Homo sapiens: one gene and its partners. The protein of the gene in region 2 purifies or fractionates together with the protein of the main gene of each other region. This does not show direct contact. Each region holds a gene or a part of one and is shown on either strand. Other genes may lie near its edges.

Region 1 (7,000 bases), on a different chromosome or scaffold from region 2:
TATTAAGTTATATGCTACATCTAAGATCTACCGCTTAGCTCTTAAATCAGCTCTTTAGAGTTTAAAAAGGGTTGCTCATAATCTCAGCCTTCCTATGTTTAAACACTAAAAACAGTTTGGCTGGATCCTTGTGTAATACTACTTTGACATTTTTATCTACCAAAAAAATATGGCACTAAAGAAGGCTTGTGTCTTATTTGTCTCATCACTTGTTTGCAATGATAAAATGTAACAGCACTTGGTATTATAAAAATTAGGATTATCTTTGTATCACAGCTTAAAAGGCAGGAGTTCATAGGGCACAGACATAACTATTTTAGAGAGAAACATCCATTTTCCAACTATTATTGCTTTATAGTACTATTTGGCAGAAGAAAAAATATTTCTCTCTCAACAATATGCTTTATTTCTCCAGTTACTATTAAGTCGGACATGGGTTCAAATTCCCATTCTGCTATACTGATTCTGCAGACGGTTAATTTTTGTGAATTTTAGTAGAAATGTTAACCTGTCAATTTTATAAAACTGTTGTACAAGTTAAATTGAGTAATACAAAATGGCTTATGCCTATGTCTGTCTCAAAAGTAAAGTTCTACAATTAACACCAATTTTAATACTCTTAATAAAAAATTAATATTTGTAGAAAATAATTTTCTTATAAAGAAGAATCAAAGTTTTCCTCTAAAATGTGGTATCATTAATATTTCAGATTAACCTATTTGGGTTCTACAACATGGCATTAAGTTCTAGTAAATCTTAGGGAAAGGCATTTATTATTTTGGTCACGAAAATCTAGAAACACAAATGAAAGCTTTTGGGCAAAAGCAGGAGGTCACTGAAAGTCATTTAGAATTTTTAGAGTGTCCTGAATTTGGAGTGGGGAAAGACTGTGAAGATCATTAATGTAACCCTACACATTTACCCCCCCAAAAAAAAAGAAGAGTGAGGGCTGAAGTTAACAGGATTCACTCAACTTGTATAGCCAATAAGGCTAAGAAGATATGAAAATCTAGGTCTTTCAACTTAGAGTCCAACTGTTCTTCACATTCTATGTACCACTCTGCTTTTAAAACATTTTGATTGCATTTCACCCTTTTATGGTTTACAGTGCTTCTTCCACATCCAGGTGACTTATTTTTCCAAAATTTTGCTATTTCAACAGTTTTTAGGCAACTAATAACCGTCCAGTTAGGTTCCTATCCAAACAACTATTTTCCCTTTCTTCCTTCCTATGAAAATCCTGATTTACTCCTGAATATGGCAATATATTCAATAAAGTCCACTGAAGCCCTATTCCTGCTCCAGGGGATGAACCAGGTGATGAACCAAGACTGATCTAGCAAAAAGCGAACCCCATTCTGCTTTGCTGGTGAATTAGTTTAGAGTAGTCTTGTAACCAATGGAACCTTAGGAAGGAATTTTGTGGGGACTTTCGAAGAGAGGTTTTCTCCTTTTTTTAAAAAAAAAAGAAAAGAAAAGAAAAGAAAATGTACAGGAGAGTCTCTTTTCCAATGTCTTTGGTTGTCTCCCATAAGTACATGATACAGCAGTCATCTCTTTATTATGAGAAAGCCAAGAGTTTCACAGAGAAGCTCACCCAGAGCTCTGACATTGCTGTTTTAAACAACCCCAAATTACCATGCTCTAGATTAAATTATTACACAAGCAAAAAACCTCTATTTATTCAGGTAGTCAATTATTATATCTGTGGCCAAAATCTGCCAAATATAAAACTCTAGTATTTGCTAGTGAAACTATGTTACATGACTTCTAGAAGACTTCATGTCATACCAAATAATATGAATATATAATTTTTTAAAATTAAAGTTTGTTAAAAATCTATTAGGGAAACAAAAAGTTGACTTAAAAAAATACAATTGACAAATCTTTAGCCAGACTAAGAAAAAAAGAGAAGAAGATCCAAATAAAATCAGAAATGAAAAAGGAGACATTACAACTTACACAGAAATTACGACTTACACAGACATTATGACTTATGCAGAAATCCAAAGGCTTGTTAGTGGTTACTGTAAGCAACTATATATGCTGATAAACTGGAAAATATAGAAGAAATGGACACATTCCTAGACATATACAACCTACCAAGATTGAAACAAGAGGAAATCCAAAACCAGAACAGACCAGTAACAAGTAATGAGATCAAAGCTGTAATAAAAAGTCTTCTAGTAATGAAAAGGCCAGGACATAATGGCTTCACTGCTGAATTCTACCAAACATTTAAAGAAGAACTAATACCAATCCTACTCAAAATATTCTAAAAAATAGAGGAGGGAATACTTCCAAATTCATTCAAGGCCAGTATTACCCTGATACCAAAACCAGACAAAGACACATCAAAAAAAGAAAACTACAGGCCAGTATCGCTGATGAGTATTAATGCAGAAATCCTCAACAAAATACTAGCACAACTGAATTCAACAATATATTAGAAAGATCATTCATCATGATCAAGTGGGATTTATCTGTGGGATGCAAGGATGGTTCAAAACACAAAATCAATTAACATGATATATCATATCAAAAAAATAAAGAATAACCATATGATCATTTCAACTGATGTTGAAAAAACATTTGATTAAAAAATTCAATATCCCTTCATGATAAAAACCCTCAAAAAACTGGATATGGAAGGAACATATCTCAACATAATAAAAGCCATATATGACAGACCCACAGCTAGTATCATGCTGAATGAGGAAAAACTGAAAATCTTTCCTCTAAGACCTGCAACACAAGGATGCCCACTGTCACCACTGTTATTTAACATAGTACTGGAAGTCCTATCTAGCTCAATCAGACAAGAGAAAGATATCAAAGGCATACAAATTGGGAAGGAAGAAGTCAAATTATACCTGTTTGTTGGTGATATAATCTTATATTTGGAAAAACCTAAACATTCCACAAGAAAACTAGAACTGATAAATTCAGTAAAGTTCCAGAATACAAAATCAATGTACAAACATCACTAGCATTTCTATATGCCAACAGTGAACAATGTGAAAAAGAAACTAAAAAGTAATCCTGTTTACAATAGCCATACATAAAATTAAATACTTAGGAATTAACCAAAGAAGTAAAAGATCTCTATAATGGAAACAATAAAACACGAATGAAGAAAATTGAAGAGGACACCAAAAAATGGAAAAATATTCCATGTTCATGGATTGGGATGAATCAACACTGTTAAAATGTCCTGGCAATCTATAGATTCAATGCAATCCCAATCAAAATACCAATGGAATTCTTCACAGGAATAGAAAAAATACTAAAATTTATATGGAACCAGAAAAGACCCAGAATAGCCAAAGCCACCCTAAGCAAAAAGAACAAAACTGGTGGAATCCCATTATCTAACTTCAAATTATGCTACAGACCTATCGTAACCAAAACAGCATGGTACTGTCACAAAAACAGACACGTGTACCAATAGAACAGAACAGAGAACCCAAAACCAAATCCAAACACCTACAGCAAACTCATTTTTGACAAAGGTGCCAAGAACATACACTGGGAAAAGACAAGTCTCTTTAATAAATGGTGCTGGGAAACTGGATAAACACATGCAAAATCATGAAACCAGACCCCTATCTCTTGCCATATACAAAATTCAAATCAAAATGCATTAAATACTTCAAACTGAATCTAATACAAGAAAACACTGGGGAAAATCTCCAGGACATTAGTCTGAGCAAATATTTCTTGAGCAATAGCCCACAAGCACAGGCAACCAAAGCAAACATGGACAAATGGGATCACATCAAGTTAAAAAGCTTCTGCACAGCAAAGGAAGTAATCAACAAAGTGAAGAGACAACCCACAGAACGAGAGAAAACATTTGCAAACTACCCCTCTGACAGGGGACTAATAACCAGAATATAAGGAGCTCAAACAACTCTACAGGAAAAAACCTAATAATCTGATAAAAAATGGGCAAAAGATCTGAATAGACATTCCTCAAAAGAAGACACACAAATGGTGAAAAGGTTCTCAACATCACTAATCATCAGATATCCAAAACTCAATGAGATATCATCTTGTCCCAGTTAAAATGCCTTTTATCCAAAAGTCAGGCAGTAACAAATGCTGGTGAGGATGTAAAGAAAAGGGAACCCTTGTTCACCATTGGTGGGAATGTACAACCACTACGGAGAACAGTTTGGAGGTCCCCCAAAAAACTAAAAATAGAGCTACCATATGATCGAGCAATTCCACTGCTGGGTATATATCCAAAATAAAGGAAATCAGTGTATCGAAGAGATCTGCACTCCTATGTTTGTTGCAGCACTGTTTACAATAGCTAACATTTGGAGGCAACCTAAGTGTCCATCAACAGATGAATGGATAATGAAAATGTGGTACATACACACAATGGAGTACTCGTCAGCCATAAAAAAACAGACCCAGTCATTTGCAACAACAGGGATAGAATTGGAGATCATTATGTTAACCGAAATAAGGCAGGCACAGAAAAACAAACATCACATGTTCTCACTTACTTGTGGGATCTGAACATCAAATCAACTGAATTCATGGACATAACAGAAGGATGGTTACCAGAGGCTGGGAAGGGTAATGGGGGGTTGAGTGGGAGGTGGGGATGGTTAATGGGTACAAAAAAATAGAATAAGACCTACTATTTGATAGCACAATAGGGTGACTATAGTCAATAATAACTTAATTGTATATTTTAAAATAACTTAAATAATGTAATTGGAATGTTTGTAACTCAAAGGATAAATGCTTGAGGGGATGAATACCTAATTCTTCATGATATGATTATTTCACATTACATGCCTGTACCAAAACATCCCATGTACCCCATAAATATAGACACCTATTATGTACCCACAAATTTTTTTTAAAACCCACTAAAATAAGAAGAAAAATCTATTAGGTGTGTTACTAAGAAACGTGCTGTTTAGTGGTCTACAATATTCAAAACCTCAGGGTGTGACTAAAGAAACTCATCTAAAATTATACAATGACTATTTAATGGTAGAGAAATAAATCTGAACTTATATCCATTCTAAAAATGAATAAAAACAACTTCAAAAAACTTAAGAGAAACCTGAGTTTCAAAAAGTCCAACGTTATTCTCCAAATACTTATTTAAATAAATTTACTTTGGAAAAACACGACTGTCACACTGACATAAAGCTTAAAAATATTTTATTACCTATTAAAAGTCAGTGCATTTAACACCCATTGCCTTTTAAAACCCCATATGATTCCTTATCAGACAAAATCAGATGATATTTACCATCTTAAATTCAAATAATGGCCAAAAAGTTAACAAATCTTGACTTTAAGGCAACACTCTCAACTACTAAGAAAGGGTCACGAGAGAAAAGGCCTAAAAGCAATCATAAAAGTTGTTGTCAAAAACCTTTGTATCACTGAAGACAATTGTCAAAGAGTTACTCTCAAGAAAGGCCTACTGATGAGTGAGCTGATGCTCTCAATGACTCTGAATTTTTTTTTAATTTAGGATAAATTGATTAAATATAACATAAAAGTAATGTCAGCTACAATAAACTTTGTAATGATGGAGAAATTAGCCCTGGTAAATGGAATTATAGTTCAAACTTTCTAATCAAGGTAGTATTTGTCAGTACTATTAAAATAAAACCAAAATAACAAGAAAACCTTAGGAGTTAAATGGAAAACATGTTTTCCACCTTTTCATGCGTCTATACCCCTTGAGCTATTTTCTAAGAAACGCATACTCTTCAGTATACCCTGGGTAAAGTAGCCAGACACTTCATTTAAAACAAATAAATCATGGCCCGGCACAGTGCCTCACGCCTGTAATCCCAGCACTTTGGGAGGCCAAGGCGGGCCGATCACCTGAGATCAGGAGTTTGAGACCAGCCTGGCCAACATGGTGAATGAAACCCTGTCTCTACTAAAAACACAAAAATTAATCGGGCGTGGTGGCAGGTGCCTGTAATCCCAGCTACTTGGGAGGTTGAGGCAGGAGAATCGCTTGAACCCGGGAGGCAGAGGTTGCAGTGAGCGGAGATCATGCCACTACACTCCAGCCTGGGCAACAGAGCCAGACTCTGTCTCTAAATAAATACATACATACATACATACATAAATCCTGAATTAGGTGCATGTTTCCAACTAAATATAAACTTGAAGGCAATTCACTTAGAAAAAATTTTAAAAAATATATAATGATAGCATTCTGTTCATTACCCAATGTTAAAATTAACAACAGTTTTAGCCAATGATTCAAATCTATTCAGATAATTCATTATTTTAAAAATAAGGTAAAACTTTTTTGTATCTACCTAACATTAAGTGGTCACAGCAGTATTATATTAAAAAAAAAAGGAGGAAAGATGAGAGTTAAAAATGAGCTTGCAATGGGTGCTTTCTTAAAACCACAATCATTTCTAGGTCATCTGTTTTGGTGTTGCCACAGCGACTTTGTGAATCATATGACTTTTCACCCCCTCCATAACTCAGGGGTACATTTGTTTCTGGTAAAAATATATACATTAGTGGATGTAATTTTGTTAGAGTACGTAATGTACTTTCAGCCACAACTTAGTAAACTAAATACTGGCCACTGAAAAAACATAACAGAGAGAGAAAATTATCCATATATCCACCTTTCTAAAACTGTCCATCATGTCAGCACTGAATATACTACTGTATCGTTAAGTCTGAAAACTTTTCCAACAATGACTTTACTGAAAACCTAATCTGACAAAAATTAATCAAGCACCATTGTAAAACACTCACCATGATTATTTACAAAAAGCAAATCTGATCTTATATTTAGATATACACTTACAAGAATCCTCATTTGAAATGCACAGTTAAGTATTTAATGGTGAAGTATCATGATTTCTGCAACTTACTACATATATATGTAAAAGTTGTATATTAATAAATACAGAAAGCAAATGTGGCAAAATGTTATCAATGCCAAAAGTAAGTGAAAGGTATATGGGTAGTCAGCATGTTT
Region 2 (7,757 bases):
TCTTGGTTAGAGAATCCTCGTCATTGTGTCTCTGTCCTTACCTTCTTAGAGATCTGGCTATATTGCTCTCAGACAATAATGAATGTCTGTAGTCCTCCAAGAAAGAAACCCCTTTCACCAGATGCAAAATAAACCCAGGTTACTGAAGACCAGATTAGCATGGATCAAGGATCTCATGTTATTCAACAGAACTCGTTGCACAAATCAATATTAACACTTCAGTGTTTGCTCCTGACATTCAATAAAAATATGTAGGTAATCAAAAGTCAGGAAATATTTGTGATTTTATACTTTTCAATGTGAAAATAGAAGCACCCTATTAATAAACTCGGTGGCATGTATTCCATATAAATGCTGAAAATCAGGTGCTATGATTGACATCTCAACGTGGAATCTTGGATTATTTATTACCTGTTTTCATCCCTCAGTTTCATGCCATGAAGTATTATGTGCCTTTCCAGCTCCCCATCTTCATGAGGAGAAAGAACATTACTTCCAAAAATTTAAAGCATTTTGTCATTGGGAGCAGCCAGCTTCATTGGGTCACAGGCCAGATGTTCACCCCCATACACACTTGCAGGGAAGTCTTTTCCTCTTAGAAGGCTGTCTTTGGCTAGTTGTGGTGGCTAGCACAAGTGGAAGTCGCAGTGAGCTAAGATTGTGCCACTGCACTCCACCTGGGTGACATAGCAAGACTCCATCTCAATAATAATAATAATAATAATAATAATAACAATAATAATAAAATAATAATAAAGACTGTCTTTTAGATGTGATCAGAAAAACTAAAAGGCAGTGAAACAAGTTGAGTCATGGACCTTGTGTCTGTAATTTGTGCTTTGGGATGGCCTTGAAGGCAGGATATTCCCAACCTGCCAATCTGAGACCAGCACTGGAAGGGCCTCCTGTGTAATCCACTCTCCTTAGTAGCTCCTGGCCACAACTCACAACACAACTCAAAACCAAAAACCATTCTTAATAGGTTTAGCCAAACGGTTACATAACTTAATGAAGCACTGTGTGTTCACTATTGTATCCATAAATAGTCCATACATTATAGATATGTGTGCTTTTATTTTTATCTTTATTTTCTTGAGATGGAGTCTCACTTTGTCGCCCAGCTGGAGTGCAGTGGTGCGATCTCGGCTCACTGCAACCTCTGCCTCCCAGGTTCAAGCAGTTCTCTGCCTCACCCTCCCAAGTAGCTGGGATTACACGTGCCCACCACCACGCCCGGCTAATTTTTATATTTTTAGTAGAGACGGGGTTTCACCATCTTGGCCAGGCTGGTCTTGAACTCCTGACCTTGTGATCCACCTGCCTTGGCCTCCCAAAGTGCTGGGATTACAGGCATGAGCCACTGTGCCCGGCCAGATGTGTGTACTTTTATAAACAAAATCTTCGTGCTATTATCACCTAAAATTTATGAACTATTTCTTACATTCAGTCTGTATTCCACTTTCTCCAATTGTCTCATAAATGCTTATTGTTTGTATGGATTACACTTAAAGAAAGGGTAAATTTAGTCAGATGTTTGTAATAAACTCACATGGGCTGGGTGAGATCCAGGAGGCAGAATGGAAGTCAATTTCTGAGCCTCTAAGACTGGCAAGTTGGGTATAAACAAAGGAATGGCTGATTTGAAATTATTTTGCCTGGCCATCTCCTGCCCTATTCAAAAAATGATACTACAAATTACATTTCTGCCTTTTCAGCGGTTGCACACAAGGGCCTGCCAGGAGCATTTTAATATTGCATTTTACAAACTGAACTCATGGCAACTTCTCTCTGGGCAGAGTTAAGTGTTACTCTCCCAGTAGAAGCTCTGCCTACGTTTTATTAAGCAAAGCTCTAGGCTGAAGGACCCTCATGCTCAACTTCAAGTACCACGACTATCTTGGATTTTGCAAACTACAATGCGGTATTTTTTTGGCAAATGTAGTTTCCTAGGAAAGAAAGGAACTGGTCAGGATGAACGAGTGGATAAAAATGTGAGCCAGGTCGAGCTGGCTCCAGCATGAAGTTGCATAACAGCAAAAGCTACTTTTCCACTAAATCTAAGCAAAAATTGTGTTGTAGCCCAGGAATTTCAAGAGAGGGTTGAGGACACCAGGAGGCACCCAGATGAAACATGTACTGTACAAATAACACCCATGGAGTGAATAGAGCAAACAAAACATTTAAATGCTAACAATAATATATAATACACACCACAGTAATACACACACCCAGACACACAGAAAAATAACACCAGACCCTGTGGTCACGGGTGTACACGACAGGGTGGACCCAGGACAGGTACACATTCAAAAACGCGCAGCGGTCATGGTCCCATAAGCTGTACCAAAAAAATGCATTTTCTTCACCATTTCCCATCCAATTAGATAAATATAATAAGCCGTGGGCTTTTGATTCGTTTTGAAGTTTCATACACTGACATTTTTGTTCGAAGATCTAGGCAGATCTTGCAGGATTCAAGCAAAAGGTGGTAGACGAAAACACGCCCAGAACTGCGAGGGGAGGGGGAGGTCACCTGGAACTCTGCAACCGAATCAGCGATTGCCGAGCTTAGGTGGCACTCGCTCTCAGCAGCAGAGGTCCCAGCCACGCCGCTGGGAGGTGGAAGCGATCCGAGGCTCCCGCCCCACCTCCCAGACCGACACGTTGACACTGGGGGCTGGACCAGGCGCTGGCTGGGGATGCTTGGTTCGCCCGGAGATGGGGACTTGGAGAGGTCCTGGTGGGCTCCTAAGGGTCGGGGTAGCTGCCACCACCCCTAGAGGGCTCTCCGGGCAGGCAAAGAGTGGGAGGAAAGGAGACCCCACCAGGAGGGGGCAGGTGCACCGGGCAGGCAGTGGCGCGGGGGCTGAGCCACCGAGGGCCGAACGTTAGACCAAGAGCTGGCAGGAGGGCGGCGGGGGCTTCGGGTCCCGGCTAAAGTCAGGGCACAAGCTAGGTGGCCCCGCGCCCAGAGTCACTCACCATCCTCCAGCGCTTCGTGCACCAGCAGAAGACCAAGCAGCAGCCAGACCTTCATCTCGGGAACCTCGGACCTCGGAGCGCAGGAGCGCGGCGGCTGCGCGGGGCGGGGACGCAGGGGAGGCGGCGGGCGAGGGGCGGGCTCCTGGGACGCCGAAGCGGGAGGATTCGGTTTCTTCAGGAGGAACAAGGTTTGGGGGAAAAAGTTGGGGAATTTTTTTTTTTTTTAGTTCTCTGTGTAATGTGACTTCTCCTGCCCCCTGGCGGAGCCGCGGTGCGCAGCACTTCTTCCCAGCGCGGGGAGGAAAGGCTAAGCGTGAAATGTACATTACAACAGCCATTCCTTGAATTTCTCCAACGCTTGGCGTTTTCACCAAGGTTATCAAGTTCAAGAAGGATCAGCGGGTGCTGATGGGGTCACTTTTAACCACGATTGTCCAAATGTTACCAGCGCCCGCCCCACCTCCTCAGGCAGAACCTGAGTGCTCTGTAAAAAGTGCTTCCTAAATTATTTCTGTTCATTCCATTTCTCTCCCCCACATGCACTCACTCACAGGACCGTTGCCCCGGGTTCTTGCTGCTCCTCTGTGTCTGGCCAGAGTTGGTCTCCGCACCCAGCCCTGTAACTGCTGGTGGGGGTGGGAGGACGGGTTCATTACAGGAATAACGTGGAAAATGAGACTGTGCAGACAACCCGGGCCTCTGGTGGTGAGGCAGGAGAACAGGGAATTAGGGTAAGCACGGGCTAGGGTATGAGCAGGAGAACAGCAGGTGCAGCCAGTTCGCAGAAGCAAAAGATCAGCAGGTGCAGACAGTTCTAGGCATGATTAGGCGGCACACAGGCCACATCCTCGCTCCTCTGATAACAAGGCAGAAGTTTCCACTTCAGCCTCGGACTGGTCGCAGGCCAGTCCTTCGTAAGGTGTAACCAGTTGGAGGCCTCTAAAGGGAACCCAAGGGTGTTGCCAAGTTCTTTTCGCTTTATAAAATCCCTGGGGAGCGTCAGGCTCTTGTGGCTTGCTGCAGCGCCCTCTGTGAATTGTCTTCTATAAATCTACGTTTTCCTTCCTCCCTTCTGTTGCTTTGTTTTTCCTTGCTTCTTTCTTTCGTTACTCCGTGCATTTCGTTCAATTTTTTGTTCAACAGGCCAAGAACCTGGACAACTCTATCAGGTAACAGTGGGGCAGAAGATACGGGCTTTCACAAGTCCCTCTGCAGAGAGCCATCCTGCGTTTCTGAGCTTGCAGACTCTCATGATCAAAGCAGTTTGCTAGCGGGGGAGATGCCTGTGTGTGTTCCCCCGGTGAGAAGCAGCCCATCTCATTGTAATCTTCAGCACCAGGCACTGCTATTAAAGGGAGCTCAATTCTAAATAACAGGAAAGGGACTTGTCCCTCAACACCCAACGAAAGAAGTGCTGCCATTTATAACAAACTAATGCTTCTCAGTCACTTCTGCAGGAGGAACCAAGAATTCTATATTCTGTTGCCAGCTCTAGCCGGAGCTTTGCCACTCGCTTGCCTTGCGATGCAGAGAGCAGTTGGCTGGGAATAAAGACCAGAGTTCAGATGCTGACACTGGCACAAACTCTCCATGCCTCTCAGAATTCACTTAACCTTCTGGGTTTTAGCATCTCTTGTTTATTAAGAAAGGGAACTAGGTGATTATTTCAACAGGAGTTTGCTATGTGATTAACATTACGGCTATGAAGGTTGAGACATCATCTCTCATGGCTACTTTTAAGGAGTGAACAAGCATTTAGACCACTGCAATGTGGTGTGTCAGGTTCTGGGGAGAATTCTGAGCAAAGGACTTGGAGCATGCACACAGGAGAGAGTAAATCTGCCTAAATTGCCCCACCGTGAGATTTCTTTTCATTCTGACCCCATGAATTGACTGCTTAACTCTCACTCCATGTTGGAGCCTGGGGTTGGGTCTAGATTCCTCCTCTCGGTCGCAGTATCCCCTCCATGCTGACTATGCATGTGCCAGGTCCACCTCTCTTGTGCCATTATTGTCAAGCTTCACTGCCCTGGCTCAGCTACATTTAGCCGAGAGTCGTCCCTCTTTCTCTTGCCGCTTAGAGGCTCTTCTTGGGGGGCTGAGGCGAGAGAGTCATTTGAGCCTGGGAAGCGAGGTTGCAGTGAGCTGAGATGGCACCACTGCACTCCAGCCTGGGCGACAGAGAGAGACTGTCTCAAAATAAATAAATAATAAATAAATAAATAAAAGCAAAGAAGAGAGGCCTCAGAGAATACCCATTCTTCTGCCACCTTGCTCTCAGATTTCTGCCATTCAGAACTATAAGAGAATACATTTCTGTTCTTTAAACCACGCACTCTGTGGTTCTTTGCTATGGTAGCCCCAGCAAATTAATACAGGGGTCTGTATTAAGATGGGAACAGAATTCATAAGAAGTATAAGGGCTTCCCAAGACACGTAGCTATTTCATCACAAGGCTTATTATCCTTGAATGAGACAATCTCAAGATGATTTTAAATTTGAAAACAAAAACTGCCAAAGCTGTATTTTTCACAGGTCTTATTTCACTATAAAAATCCACGTGCTTTGTCTCTAGGGTGAGAAAGAATTTTATTATTAGAATGTCGTGTTGATCTTTTCCATTCCTTCTCCAACAATTACTATAATGTTAGCCAATTAAAATAAACATTATCTTGCAGCTCTAAATCAAATACAACTTGAAGCCTGCTTTCCCAAGGCCTGATTTTTTTTTTTTGTATGTTTAGCTTGTATCTGGTCACCTTAATGGACCTTCTTAGTAGCTTAAATAGTTTTCAGTTGATCTCTTGGGTTTTTAGATAAACGATCACATTACCTGTAACACCCACTTTTCTTTCTTCTCTTTTCTTTGAGATAAGTCTCACTCTGTTGCTTAGGCTGGAGTACACTGGCATGATCACAGCTCACTGCAACCTCCACCTCTCCGGCTCAAGCAATTCTCCTGCCTCAGCCTCCTGAGTAGCTGGGACTACAGGTGTGCGCCACCATGTCTGACTAATTTTTGTATTTTTAGTAGAGATGGGTTTTCGCTGTGTTGGCCAGGCTGGTCTCAAACTCCTGACCTCAAGTGATCCTCCTGCCTCAGCCTCCCCAAGTGCTGGGATTACAGGTGTCAGCCACCGTGCCTGGCCATTTTCATTATCTATTTTAATTAACGGTAGCTTTCTATGCTTACCCATGAAATCTCCCTACTCCATTGCCTTCCGTGCTTTTTATTTGCCCCTTTGAAGTGGTGAATACCATTAGGAATTTGTTAGGTAAGAAAAAATCAGCCAATATTTTGGGCATCCCTTCTCCATCCCCAAGATAAGGACACGTAACTTCTCTAACTAGTCTTCGTTAACTACAGACATACAACCAAGATGATTTTTTCACAAAAATCTATCAGGGGAATCCGCCCCCAATATTTCAACGTAGGTTCTTTTTATTTTCCTTAAGTGTCGGCCGGCTGAGAAATAAAGAGAAAGAGTACAAAGAGAGGAATTTTACAGCTGGGCCGCCAGGAGTGACATCATACATTGGTAGGACCGTGATGCCCACCTGAGCCTCAAACCAGCAAGTTTTTTATTAAGGGTTTCAAAAGGGGAGGGGGTGTAAAAACAGAGAGTAGGTACAAAGATGACACGCTTCAAAGGGCAAAAAGCAGAACAAAGATCACGTGCTTCTGAGGGAACAGGACAAAGGTCAAAAGCAGAACTACTGATAAGGGTCCAACAAAGATCACAAGGCAAAGGGCAAAAGCAGAACCACTGAAAAGGGTCTATGTTCAGCGGTGCATGTATTGTCTTGATAAACATCTTAAACAACAGAAAACGGTTCGAGAGCAGAGAACTGGTCTGACCGCAAATGTACCAGGGCGGACTTTTTTCCCCACCCTAGTAAGCCTGAGGGTACTGCAGGAGACCAGGGTGTATCTCAGTGCTTATCTCAACTGCACAAGACAGACATTCCCAGAGCGACCATTTATAGACCTCCCCCCAGGAACGCATTCCTTTCCCAGGGCATTAATATTAATATTTCTTGCTAGGAAAAGATTTTAGTGATATCTCTCCTACTTGCGTGTCCGTTTATAGGCTCTCTGCAAGATGAAAAGTATGGCTCTTTTTGCCCGACCCCACAGGCAGTCAGACCTTATGATTGTAACTTCCCTTGTTCCCTAAAAATCACTGTTATTCTGTTCTTTTTCAAGGTGCACTGATTTCATATTGTTCAAACGCACATTGTACAATCAATTTGTGCGGTTAACACAATTATCACAGTGGTCCTGAGGTGATGTACATCCTCAGCTTACGAAGATAACAGGATTAAGAGATTAAAGTAAAGACAGGCATAAGAAATTATAAAAGTATTATTTGGGAACTGATAAATGTCCATGAAATCTTCACAATGTATGTTTCTCTGCCATGGCTCCAGCTAGTCCCTCTGTTCGGGGTCCCTGACTTCCTGCAACAAAAATCAATGCTTCGAGGTTTTAGCAGGAATAAAATTTAGTGGTTTTAAATATGGGACTCCCTGAAGACTTCATTCTGATAGAAATGCCAGACATTTTTGACACTCCCAGAGCCACTCGTCAAGGGACATCTTAGGGTAAGGTAGGGATCCCAGAAACTTAGTCTACTTAAAACCAATGAAGCACAAGACCTTCCTAGCTCCAGGATGTAGCATGTTGTAAAGATGCATCACCTATTCATTAGTTGCAAGAGCCTCTAAGTGGCAAGGGAAAGAGGGACTACTCTAAGCCAAAATGTAGAATAGGA
Region 3 (7,000 bases), on a different chromosome or scaffold from region 2:
TTTGTTTTTTGAGACAGAGTCTCAGTCTGTCGCCCAGGCTGGAGTGCAGTGGTGCAATCTCTGCTCACTGCAACCTCCGCCTCCCAGGTTCAACAAATTATCGTGCCTCAGCCTCCCGAGCAGCTGGCATGCACCACCATGCCCCACTAATTTTTGTATTTTAGTTGAGATGGGGTTTCACCATGTTGGCCAGGCTGGTCTCAAACTCCTGACCTCAGATGATCCGTCCACCTTGACCTCCCAAAATGCTGAGATTACAGGCTTGAGCCACCGCAACCAGCCCTGGCTAGTTTTTTTTTTATCTTTAGTAGAGACAAGGTCTTGCTCTGTTGCCCAGAGGCTGGTCTGAAACTCCTGAGCTCAAGTGATCCTCCTGCCTTGGTCTCCCAAAGTGCTGGGATGACAGGCATGAGCCACCATGCTTGGCACCAGCTCTTGTTTTAAATTATAGATTTTCTAAGCAGTCTTCAATAATCAGACATTACTCGACAAATAAGAAAAATAACTAGCAATTCATATAGCATTCTACATTGCCTAGATTTTAGTTACTTCACATTATTCTCCACAATCCCTAGGATAATGAGCCTAAAATGATGACAGAATGGGTCAGAGAGAGGCATGTGAGAGAGAAACGCCGATAGACACACACACACAGAGGAATTGGGGGAGAGGTTAAAGAGAGAGAGAGACATCCACAGACATGTCATGAAAAAGTCACAGAGTTTGTTTTGTTTTTGAGACAGGGTCTCACTTTGTCACCCAGGCTGGAATACAGTGGTGCAATCCTGGCTCACTGCAACCTCTGCCTATGGGGCTCAAGGAATCCTCCCACCTCAGCCCCCCAAGTAGCTGGGACCACAGGTGTGCACCACTATGCCTAGCTAACTTTTCATATTTTCAGTATTTTGTATTTTTTCACCACGTTGTCCAGGCTGGCACAGAGTTCTTATCACTTCCATATTTTAAAGTTTTCACAGAACAAGGCTGCTCACAGAAAACAATTTCAAATAGTCAAGAAAACTATCAACCTTCAAAAAAAAAGGTGGGGGGCTGGGTACAGTGGCTCACACCTGTAATCCCAGAACTTTGAGAGGCCAAGGCAGATGGATCACTTGAGGCCACGAGTTCAAGACCAATCTGGCCAACATGGTGAAACCCCGTCTCTACTAAAAATACAAAAATTAGCTGGGTATGGTGGCACACATTTATAATTCCAGCTACTAGGGAGGCAGAGGCTGCAGTCAGCCGAGATTGCACCACTGCACTCCAGCCTGGGCGATACAGCAAGACTCTGTCAATAAACAAATAAATAAGAAAAAAAAGTATTGCTTATTTATGCCCTTGAAAAATAAAAATAATTTTTAAAAATTTTTTAGTAGTAAAATGCTAACTAAAAGCTAAAGATACGTGGTCAAAAATAAACACGGCATTATCGAGTTGTAGACATTAAATATATACAGCCTTTTGCATGTCAATCATAACTTTAAAGTAGTTTTAGAAAAGAAAAAAAGGATGATATGTTTGGCTTTCTTCAAATGTGAGAAAAATAAAACCTTAGCCAACTCTTAATAAAAAATAAAATGGCTGGGCATGGTGGCTCATACCTAGAATCCCAGTACTTTAGGAGGCCAAGGCAGAAGGAATGTTTGAGCCCAGGAGTATAAGACCAGCCTGGGCAACACAGTAAGACTCCGTCTCTACAAATAATTTTTTTTTTTTTTTTTAATTTAGCCAGGCATGGTGGCTCACACCTGTGGTCCCAGCTACTCTGGAGGCTGCGATGGAAGGATCACCTGAGCTCAAGAAGTCGAGGTTGCAGTGAGCTGAGATTGTGCCACTCTACTCCACTCTGGGCGACAGAGAGAGACCCTGTCCCAAAAAATTAACTAATTAATTAAATTAAATAAGCACAGGGAAAGTAGAAATAAATCTAAATGCGGCCAGGTGCAGTGACTCACGCCTGTAATCCCAGCATTTTGGGAGGCTGAGGTGGGCAGATCACCTGAGGTCAGGAGTTTGAGACCAGCCTGGCCTGGCCAACATGATAAAACCCCATACAAAATACAAAAATTAGCCATGCGTGGTGGTGGACGCCTATAATCCCAGCTGCTTGAAAGGCTGAGGGAGGAGAATCGCTTGAACACAGGAGGCGGAGATTGCAGTGAGCCAAGATTGCGCCACTGCACTCCAGCCTGGGTGACAGAGCAAGACTCCATCTCAAAAAAAAATCTAAATGCAACTACTGTACAATATTACACTGTTCTTTAAGTGTGCTATTATATTAATCTTTTGGTTCTCTAATTTATATACTAAAACACTAGTAAAAATTCTATTAGCAAAAAGTAATGCATGACAAACAAGATATTAAATTATCACACTTCATTCTTTTGTTTGTTTTGCTTTTTAAATTTAGAGATGGCGTCTCGCTATGTGGCCTAGACTGGTCTCGAACTCCTGGGCTCAAGCAATCCACCCACCTTGGCCTCCCAAAGTGCTGGGATTACAGGTGTGAGCCGCCGTGCCCGGCCAAATTATCAGACTTTGGTGATGAATGTAAAGAGTATTTTTTTCTTAAATCCTTTAAATATAAAACTACTTTATGATTAACTTTTTAGTAATCCACAGAAAAATACTATACATGGTTTTACAATTCTTATTAAAATACCAAACTTAAGATAAAATTCAATATAATTCACATATTTCACATGATGAAACTAAACAAGGTAATACCAGTTACTACAATGAAAAAAGCAGCAGCCAAAAGTTTAAATTCATTTACATGAAGTAGAGTATCTCTTACTGCTTACCAGGATTATGATGAGTTGCAGATTCTCCATTCTGAAAAACGTCTCCTGCCACATTCATTCTACCAGGATTAAAAGGTCCTACTCCAGTCTTGGTCTGTGAAGTTAAAGATGGGGTGTATGTTTGTATATTAACACCAAAATTACTTGACTGCAGTCCGTTAGAGACATCTCCCAAGTTGGTATTCTGCAGTGATGTTACATGTGTAATCATTAAGTTCATATCTCGCCCGTCAGTATTTTCTAATTGGCCATCATTCACAGAGCTTACACCTGTTTCTAAAGTTGTAACATTAGCAATCTGAATTTCAGAGTCTGGTTCTGTGGTGATACCACTATTACCCATTCCTGCATTTACCTTACTTCTTGAAAAACTGGAAGTGGAGAAATCCACATCATTGGTTCTGTTTTTAGTCTCAGGAGGTCTTCGTTCAATAAAATTGGAGGAATTTTTCTCTTGCCCTTGATTTGTTTCCATGTCCTCTTCATCATCAATGACAATTGTCTCACTTACACTTCCCTTCTGAGATGCCAACTCTTTTGAGGAAGGAGTAATTTTGGAATCATTTCCTTGTAGTTCTTCATTTTTTGATGATGTAAATGTTATGGTTCTTTGATCAGCTACCACTGGTACAGAAGGTGGGGGAGGTTGTACAGGTTCGATAAAAACAACATCATCATCATCTTCCACTGACGAGTTCTGAAACTTATTAGATCTAGACACTAAAGGATTAGCTGGACCACTAAATGAGTTTCCTACATTCGTGAGACTAGTTGCCATGGCCGTACTCCCTAATAAAACAGGAGTCTGATCAGTCAATTCTAATCCTCCCACTGAACTTGTGTCCATGCCAAAGAACCTGTTAGGAAGATAGAAAAAAGAATTAAAATGTCAGTATGACTTTTTATGTTACTCTAACTGAAACCATTGATTTAAAGGGTACTTTTATTTTATTTTTATTCTAAATGAAGTGATTCTTGTCTAACATTCAGGAAAATATGTGATATCCATTCATTAATCATTTCATATAGTTTACATGTTAACTTTTGCAGGATAACAAGGAAGGCAATTATCCAATTTTTATTGGATAATTAATCATATGCAATATATTCATGGTAATCATATGCAATATATTCCTACCACCACCACCACCTCCTTTCAGGGGTACACTATTTACTCCATAAAATTTATCACTAAAAATATGGATAAATCCTCCCACACATCTGAACAGGAAAAAAAAAAAATCAAAATCTGACAAAAAATAATTACTTCATTATACACTTATCCCATTTATTCACTGTATCATATAAAGTCACATGCTATAATCCTTTCCCTTACCTCATCTTTTTTGGGGGGTGGGGAAGGACAGGGTCTCGTTCTGTCACCCAGGCTGGAGTGCAGCGTTGTGACCATGGCTCACTACAGCCTTGACCTCCCAGGTTAAGGCGATCCTCCCACCTCCAAGTAGCTGGGACTACAGGCCATCGCCACCACACCTGGCTAATTTATTTATTTATTTATTTAGGTAGAGACGAGGTCTCACTATGTTGCCCTGGCTGGTCTCAAAATTCCTAGGCTCAAGAGATCCCCTGAACTCGGCCTCAGCCTCCCAAAGTGCTGGGATTACAGGCATGGGCCATTGTGCCTGGCCATCTCATCTTTTTTTAACCCACTTTTCTCATATTCTCTGGCTCCCATTAATTGTACAATTAAATCTTTCTGAAAATTTTAATCTTTTTTGACCCTATCCAGAAAGCATAAATTGTTTTTTTTGCCAGGCACTATGCTGTGTGCTTTATATCCCAGTAGCAGGCTGAATAAAGGTCACCAAAGATATCAGGTCCCCATTCCTGGAACCTACAAATGTTAACCTTACATGGAAAAAGGGACTTTGCAGATATGATTAATGTTAAGGATTTTCAAGTGAGATTATATGGGATTACCTGAGTGGGTCACAAATGTACTCACAAGTACCCTTATAAAAGACATGCAGAGGGAGACTACAAGTAAAAGAGAAGGCAGTGTGACCATTGGGAGGCTGAGGTGGGCAGATCACTTGAGCCCAGGAGTTTGAGACCAGCCTGGGCAACATGACAAAACCCCATCTCTACAAAAAATACAAAAATTAGCCGGGCATGTTAGCACATGCCTGTAGTCCCAACTACTCAGGAGACTGAAGAGGAGAATCATCTGAGGCCGGGAGTTTGAGGCTGATGTCAGCCATGATTGTGCCCTTGCACTCCAGCCTGAGCTACAGAGTGAGAACCTGTCTCAAAATGGGAAAAAAAAAAAAAAAAGAAAAAGAAAAGAAAAGAAATTCTGGCTTACAGATGCTAACTCTCTTGCCCAAGTCACACAGCTAGGTTGAATACCCAGGTCTCTAAAACTCAAGAGTTCAAAACTCATCATTCTGCTATATTCAACTAATATTTTCTAAGCACCTCCTATATGCCAGGTTGTGCTGAAGTCAAAGAAAATAGCAGAGTTAAGAAGATAACCTCAGGCCAGACACAATGGCTCATACCTGTAATCCTAGCATTTTGGGAGGCTGAGGTGGGAGGACTGCTTGAGCCCAGGAGTTCGAGACCAGCCTGAGCAACATAACAAGACCTCAAATCTACTAAATACTAAAATTTAAAAGTCAGCCAGTCATGGTGGCGCACATCTGTAGTCCTGGCTACTTAGGAGGCTGAGGCAGGAAGATCACTTGAGCCCAGGAGTTCGAGGTTGCAGTGAGCTACGATTGTGCCACTATATTCCAGCCTGGGCAACAGAGCAAACCCTGTCTCAAAAGAAAACACATACGTACACACACACACACACACACACACACACACACACAGAAAATACATACGTACACACACACACACACAGAGAGAAAATTTCTAGGACAAAGTTACTGAGCAAATGGAGATGAGACAGATCATGGGCTCAGGTGGTAATATCACTAACTCTGAACAAGAACCATTTTGATCTCACAGATCAAACTTGGGGGGCAAAATGCAAGGGGAACCAACTAGAAGAGGTAAAACTGAAGGGCAAGTATAGACTATAGATTAAATTGTAGATAGGATGAATGGGAAGTTGAAGTGGCTTATATACAGTGGTTTGGCCTAATTTTCATAGTGTATTATCTGAAAAGATGAGGAGATACTGGCTATATAGTTCTTAAAGACTGGTTTAAAAACACTTCATTTAAAGAGCCTCTGAAAGGATAAAAAAGAGACTAATATGTATTGCTTTGATTTACAGATGACAGTGGTAGAGGCATTTTTCACTGTACGTCTTGTAGCATTTTCTTAATTTTGGGCCACGTGATTTATCACTTTTTTTTAAACTAAATTTAAAAACTTTTAAACAGAATAACAGAAGGTGAAGAGATAACTAGTTTGGTGATCAGAGAACATCTCTTTAAGCAAGTGACATTTACACTGAAATACGAAATGATAAGATTCAGCTGTGAGAAAACTGGGGACAGGATATTCCAGGCAAAGAAAACAGCTTCTGCAAAGCCTAGAGGGAATGAAGTTGGCCAATCCAAGCAGCAGAATAAAGCCAATGTGGCAGATCAAAGTAAGAAGCAAAGAGGAGGATAAAATGAGATAAACAGGCAGAGAATAACACATCAAGGCCAACTAGCTAATTCATTAATTACATTTAACAGATTTACAGAGCACCTAGTATGCACAAGATACTTTCTAGGCACATGGCAAAAATCAGTAATCAAAACAGGTAAACAGCCCTGCCTAAGCTTAGAAAGCATTAATTCTAACTAAAGGTGAAAGTTTGGATTTTACTGGAACAGGAAACACTGCCATGTTTCCAGCAAAGAGGTGATACAATCTCAGGTTTTAAATAGATCACTGTGGCTGCTATGTGGGAACAAGAGGGAAAAACTGGAAGCAAAGAAACAAACTAGATGGCCATTGAAATGGTCCAAGTGAGAGATGACAGTGGCTGAAAAAGGGTGGTGATGGGAGATGAGAAAAAGTGAACAGATTAGGGTATTTTAAAAGCAAGATCTCTTACTGACATGAAAAAAAATCTACAAGGTATACTGATGACTTTTAAAAGTTACAGAACACTCATGGAGATAGAGTAGAAGGATGCTTAGCAAAGGCTGAGAAGGGTAGTGGCGAGGTGGGGGTTAATGGGCACAGAAAAACAGAATAAGACCTATTATTTGATAGCACAA

Evidence for each region. The genes of interacting proteins can lie anywhere in the genome.
Region 1: the proteins of PDGFRL (region 2) and ANKRD28 purify together in Homo sapiens (co-immunoprecipitation; 2 studies listed by BioGRID and IntAct, with this or other methods). This does not show direct contact.
Region 3: the proteins of PDGFRL (region 2) and ZMYM2 purify together in Homo sapiens (co-immunoprecipitation; 2 studies listed by BioGRID and IntAct, with this or other methods). This does not show direct contact.

Annotation. Positions count from the first base shown.
Region 1 is NC_000003.12:15,787,980-15,794,979, forward strand, and holds part of ANKRD28 (serine/threonine-protein phosphatase 6 regulatory ankyrin repeat subunit A), read right to left. Parts: intron 1-7,000. UniProt on the Homo sapiens protein: Regulatory subunit of protein phosphatase 6 (PP6) that may be involved in the recognition of phosphoprotein substrates. Involved in the PP6-mediated dephosphorylation of NFKBIE opposing its degradation in response to TNF-alpha.
Region 2 is NC_000008.11:17,572,533-17,580,289, reverse strand, and holds the start of PDGFRL (platelet-derived growth factor receptor-like protein precursor), read right to left. Parts: upstream 3,075-7,757; 5' UTR 3,038-3,074; coding exon 2,983-3,037; intron 1-2,982.
Region 3 is NC_000013.11:19,989,727-19,996,726, reverse strand, and holds part of ZMYM2 (zinc finger MYM-type protein 2), read right to left. Parts: intron 3,665-7,000; coding exon of another isoform or gene 3,655-3,664; coding exon 2,808-3,654; intron 1-2,807. UniProt on the Homo sapiens protein: Involved in the negative regulation of transcription.